Regions from separate parts of the Homo sapiens genome. Here all the other regions are linked to region 1. The links come from fine-mapping of genetic effects on gene expression. A gene starts in region 1. Each other region holds a variant in brackets. All regions are shown on one strand. Distances are from middle to middle.

What was found. PIP is the estimated chance that this variant, and not a neighbour inherited with it, causes the effect.
Region 2: its variant is fine-mapped to the expression of FUOM in whole blood (TOPMed, PIP 0.91).
Region 3: its variant is fine-mapped to the expression of FUOM in whole blood (TOPMed, PIP 0.99).

The regions. Positions count from the first base shown.
Region 1 is chr10:133,356,742-133,359,536 of GRCh38, forward strand. FUOM (fucose mutarotase) reads right to left here and starts at 1,278. Exons shown (of 6, transcript NM_001098483.3): 1 at 1,182-1,278; 2 at 446-514; 3 at 202-272. The coding sequence starts at 1,266. RefSeq lists enhancers at 1-29, 507-606 and silencers at 757-1,376, 1,427-1,506, 2,539-2,701.
Region 2 is chr10:133,387,720-133,390,514 of GRCh38, forward strand. PAOX (polyamine oxidase) reads left to right here. Exons shown (of 7, transcript NM_152911.4): 5 at 1,237-1,349; 6 at 1,871-2,028. Among named protein-coding and RNA genes, the nearest start is that of MTG1, 5.0 kb to the right of the region's middle. RefSeq lists silencers at 792-949, 1,206-1,500, 2,090-2,169 and an enhancer at 910-1,039. The variant T/C (reference allele first, on the strand shown) is at 1,371.
Region 3 is chr10:133,394,871-133,397,521 of GRCh38, forward strand. It overlaps MTG1 (mitochondrial ribosome associated GTPase 1), which reads left to right. Exons shown (of 11, transcript NM_138384.4): 2 at 843-907; 3 at 1,293-1,397. Among named protein-coding and RNA genes, the nearest start is that of MTG1, 2.0 kb to the left of the region's middle. RefSeq lists an enhancer at 13-967. The variant C/T (reference allele first, on the strand shown) is at 1,476.

The DNA.
Region 1 (2,795 bases):
GAGGGAGGGGTCAGCTCTGGGGCCCTGGGCACTGCCAGCCTTCCTGGTCAGGTGACCATTCGGGACTCCCCTGGTGAGGGTCAGGGCCCCTTTGGGGACACATGGCTTCCCCCCACTCCAAGGCAGGTGGGCCCTATGAAGCCCGCAAAAGGGGAAACTGAGGCACGGAGCAGCAGGGTGCAGGGGCGACTCAGCCCTCACCGGACTCTCCACATAGGTGTCCAGGGGCAGCAGCTTCAGCACGGCCTCCAGGAGCTGCGGGATGCCCAGGCCTGGAGGGCAGAGGAGGCAGCACTCAGTCTCCAGCCCGCCCGCCCGCCTGCCTGTCTGCACCCTTCACACTGCAAGCATGGACTTGGGGCCACGGCAGGCCACAGAGGAGCCTCAGAGCCAGGAGCACCGCTCACCCGCCCGCCCTGCCCTGGGGGACCTGGGGCTCGCTCACCGTCTGCACGGATCTCCATGGGCCCACACTGGCAGATGGAGGAGGCCGGGAAGTTCAAGTCCGCAAGAACTAAACAGCCGGGAGGACAGCCCGTGTCGGCACCTATCCCTGCCCTCGGGGTCGGCGCCGCCCGTCCTCCCACCCAGTCATGGCGGCAGATCGTGGGTCACAAGAGGTCTCAGGTCAGCCAGTTGGGCGCCCCCACCGCCGACCGGCCGCAGTCAGATCCGCAGGGCTGGAAGCCACGCGGGGAGGTGGGGAGGGCAAGGTCCCTGCCTGGGAGGCAGAGAGGCGTCAACAGCTGCCCGCGAGGCTGTCGGGTGCTGACCAGGCCAGGGGGCCGACCCGGACCCGGCCGCCTCCCCAGGGGCCAGAGGACGCGCGGCTGCCCGCGATGCCCGGACCAGGCCCCCGGCCACCCAACCCCTGCCCCGGGACCCCAGGCCCCAGGAGAAGAAAAAGCGCCGAACCCTCGGGGGCAGCCCAGACGCGAGGGCTCTCGGGCCGTCTGGGGAGGGACTCCGGGAGAAGCTCGGGCCGGCTCCGCCCAGAGCCCCACGAGGTCTCAGTTCCCTAAAGAATGCGGGGGAGGGGGCTTCCTGCCCGGAAGCCAGGGAGGCCCGAGCAACGCCCACACCCCAGGACGCGGCCCTTCCCGGCCCGGGGGTCCCCGTGCAAGCCTCGCCCTCCTGCCTGTCCCGGGGTGCTCCCCGAGGCCCCGGCCCGCTGCGCTCACCGATCTCGTCCCCGTGCCCCATCCGCGCCAGCGCGTAGAGCAGCTCGGGGGACAGCAGTGCGGGGACACCCTTCAGCGCCACCATGGCCCGGCAGACGGGGCGGGCGGGGCCTAGGGGCGGGGCTTGGGGGCCGGGGCGGGGCCTTACGGGGAGGGCGGGGCTTGGGGGCAGAGGCGGGGGCCTTACGGGGAGGGCGGGGCTTAGGGGCAGAGGCGGGGCTTTACGGGGAGGGCGGGGCTTTATTGGAGGGCGGGGCTTTAGGGTCCCGGGCTTGGGGCTTGGGGACGGGCCGGGCCTAGGGTTCGGCGGGCTGGGGTCCGCTTGCGGCTCAAGGAAGGGCGGGGAGCCCCAGGAACTGGGGACGTGCGGGCTGAGTCGTGGCGTGGGGGCAACACCCAGCCAGCCCACGGGCTCCTCGCCAGGTCCGAGACTCGGGTGCCCTTGCGCTGTGGCCGGGGGCTCCCCAGTGTCCCTACCCGAGCCTCCCACCCCGAGCTCCCTCAGGCCGAAGGGGTTCAACCGCCGCGGCCTCCCCTCATGAGGGTCTCTGCCCTCTGACCACTTCGTGCTGCCCTTAGGCCTGGCAGAATGCCCGGAGCGCACCGGGTCCCTGGGGTCACCATGGTGGGTAGCTGGACCCAGGCCTTCAGCCCACGCTCCTGAGGGACCGGGAGCAAGGGACACGGGAGCCAGGACTTCGGACCCCCTTGGGGGGAGTCCAGGAGGGCAGCCAGGCCCAGCTTCCAGGCTCAGCTGCGAAGTGCCAGGACACCTAAGGGTCCTCCATCATCCCCCGGTGTCAGCGGCCTGCAACCCCCTGCCCAGGATGGCGGCATCCTGACCTTTGGCTGAGCTCAGGCTGGCCAGGCCCTCCCTCCGCGGAACCACCTTCTTCCACATGATTCCCAGCTGGACACCAGCTGTGGGGCTAGCACTGCGGCCCTGGCCCTCAGCCCTGAGGTGACACAAATGCTCTGAGGCCTGGCGGCTCCTAAAAAGTTCTGAAAATCAATCTGTATGTGAAAAATGACAAAGCCGCGTCAGAAAACCAGGAGGAAACAGACGTCTCCATGTTGAACTGCTTGGCCCTAGGAGCCTGTCCCCATGGGAAGTGGCCTGGGCTGCGTCGGAAAAGCCTGGTGGGGCCACCCAGGCTGGCACCCAGCAGCACCTGAACAGCTGGCCCTGGGCCGGCCACTCGGGCAGAGAGAAGACCGGGGCTGCCCAGGGCCTGCCAATGAGGGGTGGCTTTGCACCGAGGCCACCGGGTTTCAGAGCTGTACCTGGGCAGTTTCTACTCCAACTTGTAAGTGGAGAGTCACCGTTTACCCAAATATACAAGGGCAAGAGGATTTTATAGAGATGGGCAAGAAAGTTTTCAGCTTCAAAACCAAATCAGGCCGGGCGCGGTGGCTCACACCTGTGATCCCAGCACTTTGGGAGGCCGAGGCGGGCGGATCACTTGAGGTCAGGGGTTGGAGACCAGCCTGGCCAACATGGTGAAACCCCGTCTCTTCAAAATATACAAAAATTAGCCAGGCATGGTGACTGGTGCCTGTAATCCCAGCTACTTGGGAGGCTGAGGCACGAGAATTGCTTGAACCCGGGAAGCG
Region 2 (2,795 bases), 31 kb after region 1:
CAGATTATTATTATTTTTTGAGATGGAGTCTTACTCTGTCGCCCAGGCTGGAGAGCAGTGGCGCGATCTTGGCTCACCGCAACCTCCACCTCCCGGGTTCATGCCATTCTCCTGCCTCAACCTGCCGAGTAGCTGGGACTACAGGTGCCCGCCACCACGCCTGGCTAATTTTTGTATTTTTATTAGACAGGGCTTTACCATATTGACCAGGCTGGTCTCGAACTCCTGACCTCGTGATCCGCCCGCCTTGGCCTCCCAAAGTGCTGGGATTACAGGCCTGAGCCACTGTGCCTGGCCCTCCACGCAGATTATTAAAAAGACATGAACTCGAGGATCAAGATTTAATAAAATTAGTAACTTTTACTGCCTTTGATCAAGGACATTCTCAAGTGAAAGCAGCATTTTTATTTATTTTTTAATATATATATTTTAATTTTTATATTCAGAGGCAGGGATATACGTGCAGGTTTGTTATGTAGCTAACCGTGTATCATGGGGGCTTGTTGTACAGATTAGTTCTATCACCCAGGAATTAAACCTAGTACCCATTAGTTATTTTTCCTGCTCCTCTCCCTCCTCCCATCCTCCACTCTCCCATAGGCCCCAGTGTGTGTTCTCATCATTTAGCTCCCACTTGAAAGGGAAAACATGTGCTGTCTGCTTTTCTGTTCCTGTGTTAGTTTGCTAAGGATAATGGCCTCCAGCTCCATCCATGTCCCTGCAAAGGACATGATCTCGTTCTTTGACGGCTGCAAAAAGCAGCATTTTGTAACCCTCATGTGCAGTGGTGGGAACGCCTGTAGGCGCATGTGGATCCTGTTGCTGCCTGATTCTGCTAAGGGACGGTTTACCTGCCCTGGCTCTTGCTCAGGTGCAAATGTCGGCGTGGTGGAAACAGCAAATGCTGTCTTAGCGTCTGAAGATGGCTGTGACCTTGAGGGTCCCTGGCAGGGCCTTCGGACCCCCAGGACTTTGCCGCCCACACTCTGCGAACTGCTGCCTGAGGGACGCTCTGTGGGGTGGCTCTTTGTGCCTCTGGGGCCCCTGCTCCATCAGTGGTTCCTTGCTGAGAAACGCGGGCGGAGAGCTGGGCTGGACACTGTCATCCCGGGGCTCTCTTTCTCCATGCAGGTCTGGTCATCCCAGGGCTCTCTTTCTCCATGCAGGTCTGGTCATCCCAGGGCTCTCTTTCTCCATGCAGGTCTGGTCATCCCAGGGCTCTCTTTCTCCATGCAGGTCTGTCCACGTTCTCTGTGGGTTCATTGCCGGACTTGAGTCTGAGTTCATGGAGACTCTGTCGGATGAAGAAGTACTTCTGTGTCTCACCCAAGTGCTCCGGAGAGTGACAGGTAGGTACTCACCACACACGC[T/C]GGTTCCTGCCTCTGCTCGTTACTGGTTGATCTCTAAACAGAAACTAGACTTTGCAGAACAGAGAAAAACTAAATTTGGCTGACTCTGTACATCTCCAGGGACCATCCTTCCTCATGTTAGTGGGGTCAGTAACAGTTCTTACCTCCGAGGAACTGAAATGACTTTGCAAACACTTCCTACTTCTGCCACCAAAATAAATGCCGTTGTCCTTGATCAGATTTTTACAGAGGAGGAACCCAAGGCTCGGAAACAGTAGCTGCTGCTGTCACAGCTCCCGGGTCCCGGCCCGCTGCTGTCGGGTCAGAGGCCCCCGGGTCCCAGCCCACTGCTCTCGGGTCAGAGGCGGCAGGAAGAGCCTCTCCTGACACACTCTGCTGCTCACTTTTCTTCCTGCATAGCATCTTTCACGTTAAACTGCTCAATCTTTAAAAATGACAAAAACAGTTGCAGACCTGTGGGTGAGAGTTCTCGGTTAACATGCAGTGTCTCTGTGGCTCAGGAAACCCACGGCTCCCCGCGCCCAAGAGCGTCCTGCGGTCTCGCTGGCACAGCGCCCCGTACACTAGGGGGTCCTACAGCTACGTGGCCGTGGGCAGTACTGGGGGCGACCTGGACCTGCTGGCTCAGCCCCTCCCTGCAGACGGCGCCGGCGCCCAGGTATGTGGCGTGCCCCAGTCGGGGGGCGTGGGTCCCGCTGCAGAGGCCCCCGCCGAGTCTGGGCGCTGCAGGAGCACCAGCCAGTGGCGGGTGGGCTGGGATCCCAGACTCGGAAGCCATTTTCTTTTTGAAACTAAGAATAATTTTTAAATGTACTGTTTTTGTGAGAATTATACACACACAGCTTAAAAAGTCAGAGAATTCTGCAGTGCTAACAAAAGAAAATAAAACCAAAATGGCAGGTGGAGCCCCTTTTGCCCTTCTCAGACGGTGCTCCCAGCTGATTCTCATCGCTAAGTTTACTGCATCTCTAAAAACATGTTTCTGCTACCACGTTTTGAGATACATTTCCTGTGCAAAATGTCAAACATACTAAAGTAGGGAGAACCTTTCAGTGCCCACCAGGCTTCCCCTAAGCCAAGCTTCTCCCCGCCCACCCCCGCCCTTTTTTATTAAGCATGACTCACACAGGACATTGTCTCACCTCAGGATATTTTGGTGCCTGTTTCTAAAAGATAAAGACATCCTTGTAAAATACTTAACTATGATGCTGAGGGCAGTGGCTCACACCTGTAATCCTAGTGCTTTGGGAGGCCTAGGCAGGAGGTTTGCTGAGGCCAAGAGTTCGAGACCAGCCTGGGCAACATAGTGAGAGTCGGTCTCCACACACACACACACACACACACACACACACACACAAGTAGCCAGGCATGGTAGCATGCACCTGTAGTCCCAGCTGCTCAGGCTTGGGCCCAGGAAGTTGAGGC
Region 3 (2,651 bases), 38 kb after region 1:
CCACTCCTGCGTCGGCTCCGCGTGTACTGGGGGCCGAGGGGGAAGAAGGGCCCGTGTGGGTGACTGAGGCTGTGTCCTCGGTCTTCGGATAACACTGGAGGGGAAGAAAGCTGGAAGCTTTGTTATCTTGGTTGTGTGTGGTATTCCTGGTTAGGGGACTATCGTCATCATCCCCGCGAGGTAGCAGGGGCCTAATGAGCCAGTGTTACTCTGTGTTATAGCCCAGATTAAGACCCGTGGAAGGGCCCGGCCCGGTGGCTCACGCTTGTAATCCCAGTACTTTGGGAGGCCGAGGTGGGCAGATCACGAGGTCAGGACATCGAGACTATCCTGGCCAGCATGGTGAAACCGTGTCTCTACTAAAAATACAAAAAATTAGCCCGGCATGGTGGCGCGTCCCTGTAGTCCCAGCTACTCGGGAGGCTGAGGCAGGAGAATTGCTTGAACCTGGCAGGCGGAGGTTGCAGTGAGCCGAGATCGTGCCACTGCACTCCAGCCTGGGTGACAGAGCAAGACTCCGTCTCAGAAAACAAAAAAGCGACCCATGCACGTTAAATATTCCACCCAGAGTCAGCCATGAGTCAGGTGGTGAAGACCGCATCTGGCTTTTGACACATGGCCCACCCTGTGGCAGGGTGCCTCCCAGTCTCCCACTCCGAGGGTGCGGACCTTGGAGGAGGCGCTCAGCGGATGTTATCTGTTACCATTACTTAGTACGCTTCCCTCAGATATAGTCTTTTTAGGTTATTTATGGTGGCGTGTCATTCTGGACGGTTCAGCTTGAATCGATCACTCTAGAAAGGTTGTGAGCCCCTTCGCTGAGGCGTCCTTCTGTTTTCCAGGGCTGAAGAAGATGCAGAGCAGCCTGAAGCTGGTGGACTGTATCATCGAGGTCCACGATGCCCGGATATCCTTTCACAGAGCAGGGGAGGCCCCTCTGCCTGAAGTCATATTACACATTAGAATTACCTGGGGAGGCTTTTAAAAATATGAATTGCGAGGCCCCTTTCTAGACCAGTTAATCAGAATCTGTGATGTGGGGTCCAGACTGCGTGTCTTTGAAACTTCATTGTTAATACATATATCTGCGTCACTCAAGCCTGACGGTACGGTGCAGCAGTGGAATCCTCTAGATGGGCTATGAAACTGTTTAAATGTTCCTGCCAACTGGGGCTTTTCTCCTGTACTTGAGGAATGAATTGGCAGGATGTGATGATTCGTTCACTGATGGCAAGAAAAAAAGTTGGTTGGCTGGTAAAGCTTTGGAGGAATTTTTACCTTAATTTTGCCACATCCCACTTTCAGGCCGCAACCCTCTGTTTCAGGAAACCCTTGGGCTTAAGCCTCACTTGCTGGTCCTCAACAAGATGGACTTGGCGGATCTTACAGAGCAGCAGGTAAAGGCCTTTCTCTCAGACGCCTTCAGCAGTGTGGCTGTGTTTTCCCGAGGTCGCTTGTTCTAACGGAAGAGTTGC[C/T]GGACGCACACTTGTCAGTTTGCCCAGGCAGGCTCTGCTTTAGAAACAGCCCTTTGCTTTGCAGAAGCGTGCCAGCATCGTTTCTCATATGGCGTGCCCCCATCTAATGTGTGGTTCGTGACCTGGACACCCAGGGAGTGCACGTCTCCTGTGGGAAGTGGCCAGGTTGTGCTGCCAGAGCCCGAGTGGTCAGTGAGTGCGCATTGTGGGCAGCAAGCCACCCAGGTGCCGAGGCAAGAGACCGAGGACACGAGCTTTTCCAGTGTAATAAAACATATGAAATAAGAATAGTTATACTAGATATAGGTCATAGATATGATTGTATATGAATATTACTAATCATTAGTTTGTAGCAATTACTCTTCATTCCAATATTATTATAATTCTTGCTCTATAATCATAACCTAGGAAAAACCAGGCCATACAGAGATAGGAGCTGAGGGGACATAGTGAGACGTGACAAGTGTGTGAGCCTTCTGTTATGCCCAGACAGGGCCACCAGAGGACTCCTTGGTCTAGCGGTAACGCCAGTGTCTGGGAAGACGCCCGTTGCCAAGCCGACTGTGGTCTAGCGGTAGCGTCAGTGTCAAGGAAAAGCACCCGCTACTTAGCAGACCGGGAAAGGGAGTCTCCCTTTCCCCAGGGGAGTTTAGAGAAGACTCTACTCCTCCACCTCTTGTGGAGGACCTGACATCAGTCAGGCCTGCCCGCAGTTATCCGGAGGCTTAACTGTCTCCCTGTGATGCTGTGCTTCAGTGGTCACGCTCCTAGTCCGCCTTGATGTTCCATCTTGTACACCTGGCTCTGTCTTTTAGATAGCAGTAGCAAAATTAGTGAAAGTACCGAAAGTCTCTGATAAGCAGAAATAATGGCGTAAGCTGTCTCTCTTTCTCCCTCTCTCTCTGCCTTGGCTGCCAGGCAGGGAAGGGCCCCTTGTCCAGTGGACACATGACCCACGTGACCTTACCTGTCATTGGAGATGGCTCACACTCCTTACCCTGCCCCTTTTGCTTTGTATCCAATAAATATTAGTGCAGCCAGACATTTGGGGCCACTACCGGTCTCTGCATCTTGGTGGTAGTGGTCCCCCAGGCACAGCTGTCTTTTCTTTTATCTCTTTGTCTTGTGTCTTATTTTCTTTTTTTTTTTTTGAGGCAGAGTCTTGCTCTGTCGCCC